Linked DNA regions of Homo sapiens: region 1 is linked to region 2. Evidence: fine-mapped expression QTL. Tissue or cell type: whole blood. Region 2 holds a variant in brackets; the other region holds the start of a gene. All regions are shown on one strand. Distances are from middle to middle.

What was found. PIP is the estimated chance that this variant, and not a neighbour inherited with it, causes the effect.
Region 1: it holds the start of PPP2R3C, and the variant in region 2 is fine-mapped to the expression of PPP2R3C in whole blood (INTERVAL, PIP 0.98).

Annotation. Positions count from the first base shown.
Region 1 is chr14:35,117,443-35,125,621 of GRCh38, forward strand. It overlaps PPP2R3C (protein phosphatase 2 regulatory subunit B''gamma), which reads right to left and starts at 4,548. Exons shown (of 13, transcript NM_017917.4): 1 at 4,460-4,548. The coding sequence starts at 4,517. PRORP (protein only RNase P catalytic subunit) reads left to right here and starts at 5,110. Exons shown (of 8, transcript NM_014672.4): 1 at 5,110-5,193; 2 at 5,510-6,789. The coding sequence starts at 5,804. PRORP-PSMA6 (PRORP-PSMA6 readthrough) reads left to right here and starts at 4,397. Exons shown (of 15, transcript NR_182666.1): 1 at 4,397-4,610; 2 at 5,510-6,789. RefSeq lists enhancers at 3,752-4,951, 4,171-5,090, 4,334-4,463, 5,004-5,083, 5,091-6,010 and 1 more.
Region 2 is chr14:35,043,470-35,051,648 of GRCh38, forward strand. It overlaps FAM177A1 (family with sequence similarity 177 member A1), which reads left to right and starts at 2,803. Exons shown (of 5, transcript NM_173607.5): 1 at 2,803-3,159. The coding sequence starts at 2,995. RefSeq lists enhancers at 2,323-2,522, 3,243-3,512, 3,613-3,672 and a silencer at 2,643-2,992. The variant G/T (reference allele first, on the strand shown) is at 3,538.

The DNA of each region.
Region 1 (8,179 bases), 74 kb after region 2:
TCTATGACAAGATCACAGATTTTACTTGATCCCTTTCTGAAATCTTAAGCTCAAATATACTCTCAGATCATCCTTTCTGGTAATTCAAAACCTCACTGCCATACCATTTCCACTTCAGCCTCACTGAGCTCTTGAATTCTGTGATCTATTTTCTCAAAAGTTATTTTACTCTTTCTGGTCTCATTTCCTTCCCAACAAGCCTGTAATTGTTTCCTTGAATTCCTTTTATGACTGCATTTCTGCTGCATCTGTTAATTTTTTTTTTTTTGGAGATGGAGCTTCACTCTTGTTGCCCAGGCTGGGGCGCAATGGTACGATCTCGGGTCACGGCAACCTCCGCCTCCCAGGTTCAAGGGATTCTCCTGCCTCAGCCTCCTGAGTGGCTGGGATTACGGGCATGTGCCACCACGCCTGGCTAATTTTGTATTTTTAGTAGAGATGGGGCTTCTCCATGTTGGTCAGGCTGGTCTTGAACTCCTGACCTCAGGTGATCTGCCCACCTCGGCCTCCCAAAGTGCTGGGATTACAGGCATGAGCCACCATGCCTGGCCTATTATGTTAATTTTTAACCTTAGACCAAACCTATAAGTTAATTTCTTTACTATGGCTCAGTGCTGTTGTAGAAAACTGCAAAATTTTTCAAGCAAAGTCAAGACTGACAACTGACCACTGAAGTTAACAATATAGCAGTCACTGATGATTCTTGACAAGCAGGAATTCGAGACGAGTACAGATTTAACCAACAACTGTTTTAACAAATATTGCTATAAGGGGAACAGAAAAATGAGGAATGGCTAGAGGTGGAAATTAAGTCAAGAAAGTTTAAGATGGGAGAAATACCAGCATGTTTATATGCTGATGGGAATGATTAAAGAAAAACTGATGATACAGGAGAAGGGACAACTGCAAGAGTACATCCTTCAGCAGGCAAAAATGGAATCTACTACAAAGGATAGGATCTAGTACACTGATGAAGGAACCAGACTTACGCAGGTGCTGTACAACCTATATAATTTACTTATTATTTTATTATTTCTCTCCACACTAAAGTGTAAGTTCTACAAAGACAGAGATTTTTTTGTGTTCTGCTATAAGCTACAACGGTACTTGGCACAAAACAGGCATGCAATAAATATCTGCTAAAAGAATGCAGTGGGTTTAAGAGTTAAGGGGTCAAGAAAGCACACAAAGTACAAGTACAGGTACCTTCCTTTTTTTTTTTTTTTTTTCCGAGACTGAGTCTCACTGTCACCCAGGCTGGAGGGCAGTGGCGCGATCTTGGCTCACTGCAAACTTCACCTCCTGGGTTGAAGTGATTCTCCTGCCTCAGCCTCCTGAGTAGCTGGGATTACAGACACTTGCCACAATGCCCGGCTAAATTTTGTATTTTTAGTAGAGAGAGCGTTTCACCACGTTGGCCAGGCTGGTCTGTCTCCTGACCTCAGGTGATCCACCCACTTCAGCCTCCCAAAGTGCTGGGATTACAGGCATGAGCCACTGCGCCCAGCCAAGTACAGGTAACTTCTTTGAGAAGTTTTCCTATGAAGAGTGCAGAGAAATGCAACAGAAGCTGGAGAGGGATGTGGGATCAAATGACTTTTTTTTTTTTTTTTGAGATGTAGTCTCGTTCTATCGCCCAGGCTGGAGAGCAGTGTCGTAATCTCAGCTCACCGCAACTTCTGCCTCCTGGGTTCAAGCGATTCTCCCGCTTCAGCCTCCCAAGTAGCTGGGATTACAGGTGTGCACCACTGCGCCCAGCTACTTTTTGTATTTTTAGTAGAGACGGACTTTCACCATGTTGGCCAGGCTGGTCTTGAACTCCTGACCTCAAGTGATCTGCCTACCTCGGCCTCCCGAAGTGTTGGGATTACAGGTGTAAGCCACAGTGCCCAGCCCAAATGAATTTTTTTTAAGACAGGGTCTGGCTCTTGTCACCCAGGCTGCAGTATAGTGTCATGATCATAGCTCACTGCAGCCCCAAACTCCTAGACTGAAACAACCCTCCCTGCTTCAGCCTCTCGAGTAGCTAGGACTACAGTGGTGCACAACCACCCGGGCTAATTTTTTACTTTCTATTTTTGTAGAAACGGTGTTTCACTATGTTGCCCAGGCTGGTCTCAAACTCCTGGCCTCAAGCGATCTTCCCATCTCGGCCTCCCAAAGTGCTGGGGTTACATGAATGAGCCACCGAGCCTCCCAACACCACTACCCCCGACCACCCACCTTTTAAAAAGATGGGTGATATTAACAGCACGTTTGTGCTGGTGTAAATGATCCAGCAGAAGGAAAATCTGATGATGTAGGAAAGAAAGGAGGAGGCTGGAAGGAAGTCAGTGAATACAGGGAAAAGAATGCAATCTAGTGGTGGACTGGAGGGACTCTTAAATAGGAGCATGGACAGTTCATCTTTTTTTTTTTTTTTTTTTGAGACGGAGTCTCGCTCTGTCGCCCAGGCTGGAGTGCAGTGGCACAATCTCCGGCTCACTACAACCTCCGCCTCCCGGGTTCACGCCATTCTCCTGCCTCAGCCTCCTGAGTAGCTGGGACTACAGGCGCCCGCCACCGCACCCGTCTAATTTTTTGTATTTTTAGTAGAGACGGGGTTTCACTGCGGTCTCAGTCTCCTGACCTCGTGATCCGCCCGCCTCGGCCTCCCAAAGTGCTGGGATTACAGGCTTGAGCCACCGCGCCCGGCATCAGTTCATCATTTTAACAGTGAAGCCAGAGTGTATGGGCAACTAACTGTGGGGTTGTGGGGCTGAAAGAAATGTTAAGGGGGACAGGTGATGTTCTCCTCTGACTGCTTCTCCTTTTTTTTTGAGACTGAGTGTCGCTCGGTCGCCCAGGCCGGAGTGCAGTGGCACAATCTCGGGCTCACTGCAAGCTCCGCCTCTCGGGTTGAAGGTATTCTCCTGCCTCAACCTCTGGAGTAGCTGGGACTATAGGCGCCCGCCACCACTACCGGGTAATTTTTTTGTATTTTTAGTAGAGACGGGGTTTCACCGTGTTAGCCAGGATGGTCTCGATCTGCTGACCTCGTGATCCGCCCGCCTCGGCCTCCCAAAGTGCTGGGATTACAGGACTGAGCGACCGCGCCCGGCCGACTGCTTCTCCTTTCTTAATGAGATATATATTAAAATACAAGTTCATCAGCTTAAAGTAAGAAGCGGGTAGGACAGACTGCAGGTGTAGGAGATGAGAAGAATAGTGTAAAAGAGTGTTGCCTGGGTGCGGCGGCTCACGTCTGTAATAGCAACACTTTGGGAGGTGGAGGTAGGAAGACTGCCTGAGGCCAGGAATTCGAGACCAGCCCAGGCAACATAGCAAGACCTCATCTCCACTAAAAATAAAAAATTAGCCGGGTGTGGTGGCGTGTGCCTGTACTTCTAGCTGCTCAAGAGGCTGGGGTGGGAAGATCCCTTGAGCCCAGGAAATCGAGGTTGCAGCAATACTTCACTGCGCCGCTGCACTCCAGCCTGGGCAACACAGGGAGATCCTGTATCGGAAAAAAAAAAGTGTATTTAGGAAAACACAGATTGGCAGTTTGGGAGATGAAAATTGAATGTAGGAGAATGAACGTCCAGGAAAACACGGTAGACATGACCAAAACACCTTCTTTAGATTAGTGGACTTGTATTAAAAGTGAGATAACTCGGCGGGGCGCGGTGACTCACGTCTGTAATTCCAGCACTTTGGGAGGCCGAGGTGGGCGAATCACAAGGTCAGGAGTTTGAGACCAGCCTGGCCAATATGGCGAAACCCCGTCTCTACTAGAAATACAAAAATTAACCGGCCGTGGTTGCGCGCGCTTATAGTTCCAGCTACTCCAGAGGCTGAGGCAGAAGAACCGCTTGAACCCGGGAGGCAGAGGTTGCAGTGAGCGGAGATGCTGCCACTGCACTCCAGCCAGCCTGGGCGACAGAGCAAGAGACTCCGTCTCAAAAAAAAAAGTGAGACAACTCACCAAGGTTCTGTTTTTCTCCAGCCACTTTCAACAGCCCTTAGTGCGGGTGTGGAATAGGAAAGGTAGATTTAACGAGGTTAGTTAATAAGCAATGTGAAGGAGAAAAATAAAAGGAAAAATGGATTATGAAATATAAAATGGATTACGAGGGAAGCAAAAAGCGTGACAGTAAAAAGGCAGGAGGACAATTATAGGTCCTGGTGGGGTTCAGGCGTTGTTGGAGCCGGGGTTCCAAGTTATTCTTCACAAGTTTAGATTAAGACCATGGAAGTCAGTGACTAAAGCTAAGTTTTTCGTTCCTCTAGATTCTGCCCCAGGAAAGTTTGGGTCAAACCTATCGGGATCCTTAAACCACATTCCACTCCGCCTCCTTTGTCGGGAGGTTTCACAGAAGCGGAAAAGGCGGCTCCCCCTTGCTCCTCCTCCCCACCTCCCCCCTACCTCTAGGAGTTTAGGGCCGGGCCATCCCAACGGGCTGCCCCTCCCAAAACTCACTGTTTGGACAGGTGTTGGGCGTCGCTAGGCGCCGACGAAGAACTTCTTTCCAGTCCATGGCCGACTTCCGCGCAGCAGCTTCTGCATTTGCTGTTTCCTACCTGCTCCACCCCTACCAGCTCAGGCGTCAGCACCGCCAGGCCCCGTAAAGGTTAGGAAGGCCGTCCAACCACCATCTTGATCGAGGGCGGAAGTCTTGGCTAAAGAGGCAAAAACAATTACTGTCACTGCCGCGGAGAATACCGCTACCACGCTGACTGGGGGAAAAAACTATGAAAGAGATGGAAAATGGTTCTCCTTCAGAGGCGACCCAAGCTCACCAAGCCGGATTTTAAAGGCCACGATAAGCCCGCGTTTTCCTTTATCGTGTGCCTTTGGCGCGTGCGCACCACGTGACCCAGGAGTTCATTAGTTCCGGCTTGAGGGAAGCGCCTTCTTTCACAATTTCTTTTCATTGTTCATTGCGGATATCTGGAAGCCTTCCAGGTCCCCTGAATGTAGTAGACACTTCAGCAGCCGTCTCCTACCCCTTTTGCCACTAAATGCTTCAAAACTGCCTTTTTTCCTCGCCGCCGGGCCAGGCGGAACGCCTAAGTCCGGGTCAGTCTCGTCCGTCGGTCGGGGCTGGCGCGGTGCATCGTGGGCACTGTAGTTTCCGCCGCGTTTATGGCCGCGTTAAGTCTGAGTGCCGCTTTGAGTTGTTGAATGAAGTGAACTTCATTTGTCAGCGTTCGGTACGCAGTCTAGGCAGCGCCCTTCCTGTACCTCTCTTCCTTTCCTGAGTCGTTGGCGCAGCTGACTCGCCACCTCCTCCCTCCTCGTCCCCCCACCGGAGGAGTTTTGCGGTCTGTAGAGAGCTATGCAGGGTGAGGGCCCCTAGACTTCGGCTTTCGCCGCTGTTGGTGGTAGGCTGGAGTTGGGGGTCCCTGGATACGGTTTTGGCTTTACACCCCCTTTCCAGCAAGCTTCCCGTGGGAATCTGTTCCTTTTCAGGACAGCTGTGATCCACGTGAGTAAAACTGGGCGTTCCGTCTTGTGCTTTTTCCTCAGGTTCATGAACTGGAATGTAAGAGGCACCAGAGGATTCCTGCTCTGTCCCCTGGTTTGCGGCTTGCGACGTTGGACATCCCCGGATTGTTGTTTAATAGAGAAAACTCACCTGCCTTCTTGCTTTTAAGTAGCCCCAAAAGCAGAACCTTGATTTGTCTGTAAGGAAGAAACACAAACCTTTTAAAAAGTTCCACTTCGACTCTGCACCGCCGACCCCCAATCTCTTTAATTTTGCCATAGAAGAGGGGTTTTTTCAACATCTCTCTCACTATCTGGTGCTGATCTCACTGCATAATGACTTTCTATTTGTTTGGTATTCGAAGCTTTCCGAAGCTTTGGAAGAGCCCATACCTTGGGCTAGGCCCAGGGCACTCTTATGTCTCGCTGTTTCTGGCAGACCGCTGTGGCATCAGGAACCAGCAGAGGTTGTTTTCTCTTAAAACAATGTCTCCACAGAATACCAAAGCAACGAATCTGATTGCCAAGGCCAGATATCTCAGGAAAGATGAGGGCAGTAATAAGCAAGTTTATTCTGTTCCTCATTTTTTTTTAGCTGGAGCAGCTAAGGAGAGATCACAGATGAATTCTCAAACTGAAGATCATGCCTTGGCACCTGTGAGGAACACTATTCAACTCCCAACACAACCTTTGAATTCAGAGGAGTGGGATAAACTTAAGGAAGATTTAAAAGAAAACACCGGAAAGACCAGTTTCGAAAGTTGGATCATTTCACAGATGGCTGGCTGTCATAGCTCTATAGATGTGGCTAAATCTCTGCTGGCATGGGTAGCAGCCAAAAATAATGGTATTGTAAGTTACGATTTACTGGTCAAGTATTTGTATCTCTGTGTCTTTCATATGCAGACATCTGAAGTTATTGATGTCTTTGAAATTATGAAAGCCAGATATAAGACTTTAGAACCTAGAGGTTACAGTCTTCTCATCCGGGGATTGATCCATTCAGACAGATGGAGAGAAGCATTGTTGCTGTTAGAGGACATCAAAAAAGTTATAACTCCTTCAAAAAAGAACTATAATGACTGTATCCAGGGAGCTCTCCTTCATCAAGATGTAAACACAGCTTGGAATTTATATCAGGAATTGCTAGGTCATGATATTGTTCCTATGTTGGAAACTTTAAAAGCTTTCTTTGATTTTGGAAAAGACATAAAGGATGATAACTATTCAAATAAACTACTAGATATTCTTTCATATCTAAGAAATAATCAGCTGTATCCAGGGGAGTCATTTGCACACAGTATAAAAACATGGTTTGAGAGGTAATTTTGGTTTTTTTATATGTATGTTTTTATTCTTTAATTTTTTTTTTTTTTGAGACAGGGTCTTGCTCTGTTGCCCAGACTGGAGTGCAGTGGTGTGTTCATAGCTCACTGTAACCTCAAACTCCTGGCCTCAAGTGATCCTCTCGCTTCAGTCTCCTCAGTAGCTAAAACCACAGGCATGTGCCACCATACCTGGCTAATTATTTTTAATTTAATAACTTTAAACCTCAAAGTAGCCATTCTTTTTTGTTGTTAGTTGCTGAGAATCACTCTTCTGATTATACTTTTTTCCATCTCTTAGTAAGATTTATTTTCTCTTTACGACAAAATTTTCTCTCTTTAAAAAAAGTAACAACATACATAATTTGTGCTAATCTTTACCCATCACATAAAACTGAAATTATATAGCAGTTTTAATTTTTACATTTTTTTCCTTTTGGAAGGATCATTAATTTTGTTTTCTTAGGCATCTAGTATGATGTGAGTACTTAATACTACTTATGGCCACTGTTCATAGCAAGAAAAGAATATAGCATTTGACTAGAACTGTCTCTGGCCATATTAGTATTTTCAGAAGTTCCTCTGAAATCTAGCGACTGAGATAATATGCTTATATTTATTCTGTCTACTCTCTCCCTTTTTTTTTTTTTTGAGACGGAGTTTTGCTCTTGTTGCCAGGCTAGAGTGCAATGGCATGATCTCGGCTCATTGTAACCTTTGCCTCCCGGGTTTTCTCCTGCCTCACACTCCCGAGTAGCTGGGATTACAGGCATGCGCCACCATGCCCTGCTAATTTTCTATTTTCTTTTTAGTAGAGACGGGGTTTCTCTATGTTGGTCAGGCTGCTCTCGAACTACCTCAGGTGATCCGCCTGCCTCGGCCTCCCAAAGTGCTGGGATTACAGGCGTGAACCACCGCGTCCGGCCTATTCTGTCTACTATCTATAGTTCATCAACTTGGATGATTAGAGTGGACAGGGGGATATTGATCAAGCCTTATACGTAAGCATTACAATGGAAAATCTTAACCCTTCCAGTTTGTTTTGGACCTTTCTATCATTTGGCTGCTGTCTCTCTAAAGCTCTCTCCTTTGGTTTGCTTTTGCTTTATTCATGTTACTGGGTACATACCTGTTTATTGCTTTAGTCTTTTTTAAAATTTTTGAAAATTTTTACTTATTTTTTAAAATTAATATTCTTTTTTTAAGAGGTGGGGTCTTGCTGTGTTGACCAGGCTGGACTCAAACTCTTGGCCTCAAGCGATCAGGTGTGAGCCACCATGCTTAGTCATTATTTCTTCATTAATTTGCTTCCTAAAAATTTGTTCCTTCCCTCTGTTTTTCTCTTGCCTTTTTTTCCCCTATATCATGTTTACGGAGCTTTGAAGCA
Region 2 (8,179 bases):
ATGGTACACGCCAGCTACTCAGGAGGCTGAGGTGGGAGGATCGTCTGAGTCTGCAGTGAGCCATAATTGTGCCACTGCACTCCAGCCTGGGTGATACAGTAAGGCCCTGTCTCAAAAAAAAAAAAAAAATTTCTTTATGCTTAGACTGAACCTAAAATGCATTTTTATTTTTATCATCTTTTTTTCTTGTGCATTATTTTTGATGAAAATATATTGTCCTGTTTGATGGATAACTTAAAAAATTCTCTATCAAAGTATATATATGTAGCTATGTTAAAACCCTAAGAATGTCTTGTTTATTTGATGAACATTCCTGGTTATCAAATTTTATTCAGATTTATTTTCCCAGCCTTACGCAGAAATGGTTCAATCCAAATTTACCTTTTTAGCTCTATATGTATCATTAAATGATAAATTTAGACCACATTATGTTTTCAAGTAGATAAATTATCATAATACTTGAATTTATTTTTGTCATAGTGCTACGATACAATTTATGTTACAAAGTGAAAGAAGGAAAAATTTGGCACATTGCCTTGGTGCCTACTTTTGGTTGAGCTATAACAGTTTGGAAATAATGACAAAAATATAAATGTCCAAAATAAAACCATTAGAATTTCTATGCTTTTATGTTGCTTTGAGTTGTTGATTTGTTTTGTTTTTGTTTTTTTGAGACGGAGTCTCGCTCTGTCGCCCAGGCTGGAGTGCAGTGGCGCGGTCTCGGCTCACTGCAAGCTCCGCCTCCCGGGTTCACGCCATTCTCCTGCCCCAGCCTCCCGAGTAGCTGGGACTACAGGCGCCCGCCACCACGCCCGGCTAATTTTTTGTATTTTATAGTAGAGACGGGGTTTCACCGTGTTAGCCAGGATGGTCTCGATCTCCTGACCTCGTGATCCACCCGCCTCCGCCTCCCAAAGTGCTGGGATTACAGGCGTGAGCCACCGTGCCCAGCCCGAGTTGTTGATTTGTAATAAACTGCTCTTCAATTGGATATTTGTGTTAAAAATAACTTTTTAGGAAATACTTCCAGTTCACGTTAGAATGTAACTTGTACTTTGAATTTTCAGTAAACTAAGAAATACACATGTAAACTGTGAAAATATATTCTGCTTCGGCAATGAAAATTGTAATTTGAGGCCAGGCGTGGTGGCTCACGCCTGTAATCCCAGCACTTTGGGAGGCTGAGGTGGGTGGATCATCTGAGGTCGGAAGTTCGATACTAGCCTGGCCAACATGGTGAAACCCCGTCTCTACTAACAATACAAAAATTAGCCGGGCGTGGTAGTGCACAACTGTAATCCCAGCTACTTGGCAGGCTGAGGTGGGGGAATCGCTTGAACCCGGGAGGCGGATGTTGCAGTGCGCCAAGATTGCGCCATTGCACTCCAGCGTGGGTGAGACCCCATCTCAAAAAAAAAAAAAAAGAAAAAAAAGAAAAAGAAAATTGTAATTTGATATTTAATTGCCACTTTGGAAAATAAAATCATGCATTTATAAATATCCCACAAAGTTTTAGTAATAAAGATTGTTGATTGCCCTGCTTGCCAGTAAGAAGGAAGAGATTTTGAATACATATAATGCAGAACTGTGTTGTTTATGAATGCCAATTCATGAAGTCTTAACAATTGGTTCTTTATTTTTGTTTTCAATTTATGGCCGAGTTTGGTTTTGCTGTTTTGGACTGTCTCAACTCCCTGCTGATGCCACCATACAGAGTCAGATCAGGTACTAACTTGTTTACTTCAGCAGCAACCTAACTTGATTTTATTACCAGGATAGAGAGCAATATGGATTTCCAACTAGTTTTTAAGGCGTAGATGGTTTTCAAATGATTATTTGTTTTTTAAAGTTTTTGGTTTTGTTTTTAGGTTCCAGTTATACATAGAATAGGAAGTGTACAATAACATTAGGCAGAGGGTAAGGAGAAGAACTTTGGCACAGAAGAGAAAGGAATATTTAATATTTGGGCCTGCTGTTGCTATGATGAAAAACATTTACAAGGTCATACAACTTTAGGGAGCATTTCTGAATTGAGACTAGTATGAAAATGGAATTTAAAGTATCAAATGAAGCCTCCCATAGCCAAAATAATGTATGTTTTGGTTTTGCCCCCTACATATTTGTGAAAACTTTCATGCTAAAACAACAATATACCATTTACCTGCAGAACCTCAGACTTGTTTGATGTTGAAGTCATGCAGTAATTGCATGATTTTTTACTTTCGTTGAACATTGCGAAAGACGGAAAAAATCTGGGACGCCCCCTCTAACATACGCACACGACTTTAAGACACAGATAAAACATTCCTTACATTTGTCAAGATGGAAGCTTACTACTGCCCTTTGCTCTCCTTCAGGTCTTTTCACTTAACACTTTCTACAGTTATACTTAAGTATTTCAGACAAGAGTAAGCAAATATCACGCCTGGGGTTCTTCTTTCGAGGGTATTTTGGCTGGACTGTCACCCACGTTTGGAATGGAAAGTGCAGCACGAGCCGTACATTTTACATTTTTCAGCAACCACATCCCATCACTAGCCTTTGAAGTACAACGACACAGCTGTCTTCATTTTACAAGTGCAAAAACCGAGGTCCTGCGGGGTGACTGCCCCAGACGCCGCTGGTGACGGGCTGCGCCGAGGTCGAGACGCCAGGCTTCAGGTACACGTACCAGAAATGACGTCACAGGCGGTGCCAGGCGGGGATCCACGAGCTCTGGATGCTTGCTTGGCCGGAAGCGACGCCCCGCAAGGACCCGCCCCGCCCCGCCCCGCCCCGCGCGAGCCGGTAGTTGCGCCTCCCAGACTGCAGTTGGCCAGCTCTCGGGGTGCGGAGCCCGGCGGGCTAGGCGAGGCGCGGGCTGGCCCCGCCCCTCAGGCCGGCGAGTCCCCTTCTCAGAGACTTGGCTAGGCGCGGCGCGAGGCGGGCGCTGGGCGGGTGAGTCCCACTTCCCGACAGCCTGGCTCGGCCAGCGACTGGGCGGGGAGACCAAGGATGGAAGTGGGCTTACCGGCCATTACCCTCTTTCTCACCAGCGCCAGCAGCCCTGTGGTGGCGACGACGATGGACCAGGAGCCAGTGGGCGGTGTGGAACGAGGAGAAGCCGTCGCAGCCTCGGGAGCTGCGGCCGCCGCGGCATTCGGGGAATCTGCAGGGCAGGTAGGTGGGGCCGCCGAGGCTGACGTCCGGGGAGCCGAGCCGCCTCCTTGCCTTCTCCGCGGGCCGCTCTTTTAGCCTGCGCGGCCGTCCTCCGAGCAGGCCGCCCCAGCTTTGGAGTTCCTCCTCACTGCACCCCTGTTTCTGCTCACTGAGACCAGCTTGTGGGAAGGAGCGCCCCCCGCCTCACTCACCAACCCCTTGGCTGGCAGCACAGCAGACTCTGGGGCGGCCTCGGGTTCCTGGGGTGATAGTCCAGCTTCTGGTCTACCAGAGGAAGAAGAAAGGCGTGTCCCCCAAAGGCTGTCCTTGCAGTAGCTGGAAGCCAGGTGAGGGCGGCTTCAACCACTTCTCAGTCTCTTCTGGTGCGAGCGCCTGCCT[G/T]GGCATCTGCCCTTTGCTTGGCATATGCCAAACGTTTACCAGCTTTAATTCACTGGATCCTTACAGTAACCGCTCGAGGTGGGTGTTAGCCCCATTTCACCGCCGAGGCAACTAAGGCTCCGAGCTGCGCTGTCCAACATAAATAGAATGCAAGCTGCATTGAAAATTGTAATTTAAAATTTTCCAGTAGGCACGTTTTAAAAAAGTGAAACCGATATTAATTTTAATAGCATATCTTATTTAACCTAATTTATCAAAACAATTTCAACCTAAAATTACTATGAAAGTTATTAATGAAGTATTTGCATTCTCTTTTGGAGTCTTTTCTAAGTCTTTTAAATCCTGGGTGCATTTTACACGCATAGCATATCGCAGTTCTGGCTGACCACATTTCAAGTGCGCATTAGCCACATGTGGCTAGTGGTTACTGTATTGGACAGCGCTGGTTTAGAGAGTTAACGTTTCTTGCAACTTTTCAGTATTAGACAAAAAGACACTTTGGGAGGCCAAGGCGGGTGGATCACCTGAGGTCAGGAGTTCAAGACCAGTCTGGCCAACATGGTGAAACCCCTTCTCTACTAAAAATACAAAAATTAGCTGGGCGTGGTGGCGCTCGCCTGTAGTCCCAGCTACTCGGGAGGCTGAGGCAGGAGAATTGCTTGAACCCTGGAGGTGGAGGTTGCAGTGAGCCGAGATCACGCCACTGCACTCCAGGCTGGAGACAGAGCGAGACTCCGTCTCAAAACAGCAACAACAACAACAACAACAACAACAACAAAAAAAAAACCCTTGAGTTGCTCATGTATGTAACTCTTCCCATCCTCCATGAGAATGAAGCTTTTTCAGTAGCTTCATTTTTGAGACTAAGTACCTGAATGTTAGTAAGACATTTCCCCCAAACTGTGAGTATATCTCTGTGTATCTCTTATAGTATAAGATGTCGTTTGCATTAACAAAAGCTTATCCAGCCTGGGCAACAGAGCAAGAACCCATCTCTTAAATAAAAAACTAAAGAAACCCCAAAAACAAAAAACACAACTTTCCCACATACCAAACTCTATATGGAATACGTTTTTTCCCTCCTACTTAAGAAGGGGATTCAGGGGACAACATGAATTGATAAGGAAGCCACGTCATTTTCAGTTGAGTTGAGACCTATTGTTGGCAAGTGCACTTACACTTAACCTTTGAGTCCATGGTGCTTGATATGTTTTTCAATTTGATTTTTCCTGTTGTTACTAGAATTGTTTTTTTAAAATCACTACCTCCGCCCTGGATCTAATAGCAAAGTAAACACACGTGTACTTATATACCAGCTAAATGTTGTTTGAAGTGAGAGGCTCTTTGATTGGGGTTAGTGATATTCTGTTGTTTTCACATTCTTGGTTAACAAATAAGTACTTAACCAGTAAAGAAGGCTGTAGAACAAAAGATAAAAATTCACAGGAATACCCCACCACCACCCTTTCTTCATGTTCTCATTCCCCAAAGGTAACTATTAAGTTTTGGTGTAGTCTCTCTGGAATTTTATCATTCAATATTATATATTTCTTATATATTATATATATTATTAAATATTAAATATCTCTTCTTTCTTGTTAAACACCAATGAGTTCCATTTTCTGATTTGCCCTTTGTGCTTTCAGATTCACATTCCTGAATCAGAAACATCTTTGGGAACTCCAGTTCTATGCCCAGGGGGTTGAGCACAGTAACAGGGAAGTGGACATCTCAGGAGATGGAGAGGCCTCTATCTTACACTTCTTCCCAAGTTTGGCAGAACTGAGAAATCCCTAGTGCAATGTAGGGAAAGGGAGTAAGAGATAGGAGATAGGGTCTAGAATTAGGCCTCCAAACAGGCCATCCAGTACCTGTTGTGACATTCTTTTTTTTTTTTTTTTTAAGACGGAGTCTCACTCTGTGGCCCAGGCTGGAGTGCAGTGGCATGATCTTGGCTCACTGCAACCTCCACCTCCCGGGTTCACGCAATTCTCTTGCCTCAGCCTCCTGAGTAGCTAGGACTACAGGCGCACGCAACCACATCTGGCTAATTTTTGTATTTTTAGTAGAGGTGGGGTTTCACCATCTTGGTCAGGCTGGTCTTGAAGTCCTGACCTTGTGATCCACCTGCTGCCTTGGCCTCCCAAAGTGCTGGGATTACAGGTGTGAGCCACCGCACCCGGCCTCCTGTTGTGACATTCTATCCAGCAGCTTCTCTGAATAGACTTTTAACCAGAATCTCAGCCTCAATGTTTTTAAAGGAGTTAAAATTTCAGTACCACTCAGTGATTGATTTATTTGGTACCTCTGTTACCAAGCACTTACTATGTGCCAGGAACTCTAGGCTGAAAGATATAGCAGTACCTACCCCCATGTTGCTAATAGCCTAGTTGGGGAAGATGACAAAGAATAAATTCTAAGTCTAGTATGTGTTTTAAAGAAGTCTGGGTGCCATGGGAGTATATACAAAAAATTGCCATTAAAACCAGATCCTGAGCTGGGCAGAGTGGCTCACACCTATAATCCCAGCACTTTGGAAGGCTGAGGCCAGTGGATCACTTGAGGTCAGGAGTTCGAGACCAGCCTGGCCAACGTGATGAAACCCTCATCTCTACTAAAAATAGAAAAATTAGCTGGGCATTATGGCTCACGCCTGTAGTCCCAGCTACTCGGGAGGCTGAGGCAGGAGAATCGCTGAAACCCAGGAGGTAGAGGTTGCAGTGAGCCAAGATCGCACCACTGCATTCCAGCCTGGATGACAGAGCAAGACTCCTTTTCAAAAAAGAAAAAAACAGATCCTGAGAATAAAGATAAGCACATTTATAGTTTGGTTAACTATAAAATGGAGTAAAATGTTAATTGACATGGTACCTCATAATTTCCTGGTGTTATGAAACTATCTTTCAGATCTTTGGGGTTCGTTATGGAATTTGCATAATTGGCAGTGAAATTTTTCTTACTTGCAGATTTATAAAATGAAGCATTTGGAAAATTCACAGTGTAACTTTTTTTGTTTTTTGAGACAGAATCTCACTCTGTTGCCCAGGCTGAAGTTCATGGCGCGATCTCGGCTCGCTGCAACCTCCACCTCCCGGGTTCAAGCAATTCTCCTGCCTCAGCCTCCTGTGTAGCTGGGATTATAGGCACGCTCCACCGCGCCTGGCTAATTTTTGTATTTTTTTAGTAGAGGTGGGATTTCACCATGTTAGCCAGGGTGGTCTCACACCCTTGACCTCAAGTTGTCTGCCCGCCTCAGTCTCCCAAAGTGCTGGGGTTACAAGCATGAGCCACCATGCCCAGCCACAGTGTAAATTTTATTTGTAATTATTGGATTTCTGGTTCAAGTTGATGTTTGAAAAATAAAAAAAGAAAAATATTTTAAAAATATAATTATTGGGAATTTTGTATCAAATGATTTTCTGGTTGGTTTTACCTGTTAGTGCTTCCTTCATTGCCCCCCACCCCGCCTCCCAAATAGAGGTTGGAATCATTATCCCTCATCTGAAATACTCTAAAATCTGAAGCTTTTTGAGCACTGACATTCCTTCCTTTGCCTGTGTCATAGAAGGAAAAAATTAAGCCAATGAGAGATTGCTAGAGGTAGCAGTGAGAAGCCTCTACTGTCTTGGGGGTGGGATAGGGTGGGGCATGGTGGTATACTGTGAAGGATCTGAGCTCTCTATTCACTGACTGGAGCTGTTGCATTGACATTAGATCCATCCAGTTAGTAGGATGACTGGAGATCTAACTTAGCTCATCTGTCTTTCCTTTGCATAGGAAATTAAGGGATCCAAAAAGCTGAGTCATGGTCCAAAAGGAAACGTTGATGTCAGGACAGCCATAGCCAAATTTTATCTCAAGGGTAAACATGAGACTGGGTAGGGATGGCTGTCAGTGCCTGGGGATTGGTGGGGCTTGGGGGTAGGTAGAAGAAAAGTGTCCTGGGTTAACTACTTGTTTATTTTTTTCATGGACACAATAAATGACCTGATCTTTCCTTGTTAAGGGCTGGGATTTATTTGAACCCTCAGGACAGGCTAGAAAGAATTGTGACTTTTTTTCATGTTAATACATAGGTAGCCTATGTTACCAAATTTTATTTTTTAAGATAGTTTATTATTTTTATTTTTTGAGATGGAGTCTCGCTGTGTGACCCAGACTGGAGTGCAGTGGCACGATCTCAGCTCACTGCAACCGCCACCTCCCGGGTTTAAGTGATTCTCATTCCTCAGCTTCCCGAGTAGCTGGGACTACAGGTGCGTGCCACCACGCCCAGCTAATTTTTGTTTTTTTAGTGGAGACAGGGTTTCACCATGTTGGCCGGGCTGGTCTCCAACTCCTGACATCAGGTTATCTTGCCTTGGCCCCCCAAATTGCTGCCATTATAGGCCTGAGCCACAGCACCCAGCCTTATTTTTATTTTTTTGAGACAGTCTGGCTCTGTTGCCCAGGCTTGAGTGCAGTGGTGCGATCTCGGCTCACTGCAACATCCACCTCCTGGGTTCAAGTGATTCTCATGCCTCAGCCTCCCAAGTAGCTGAAATTACATACGTGTACCACCATGCCTAGCTGATTTTTGTATTTTTAGTAAAGTTGGGGTTTTGCCATGTTGGCCAGCCTGGTCTCGAACTCCTCACCTCAT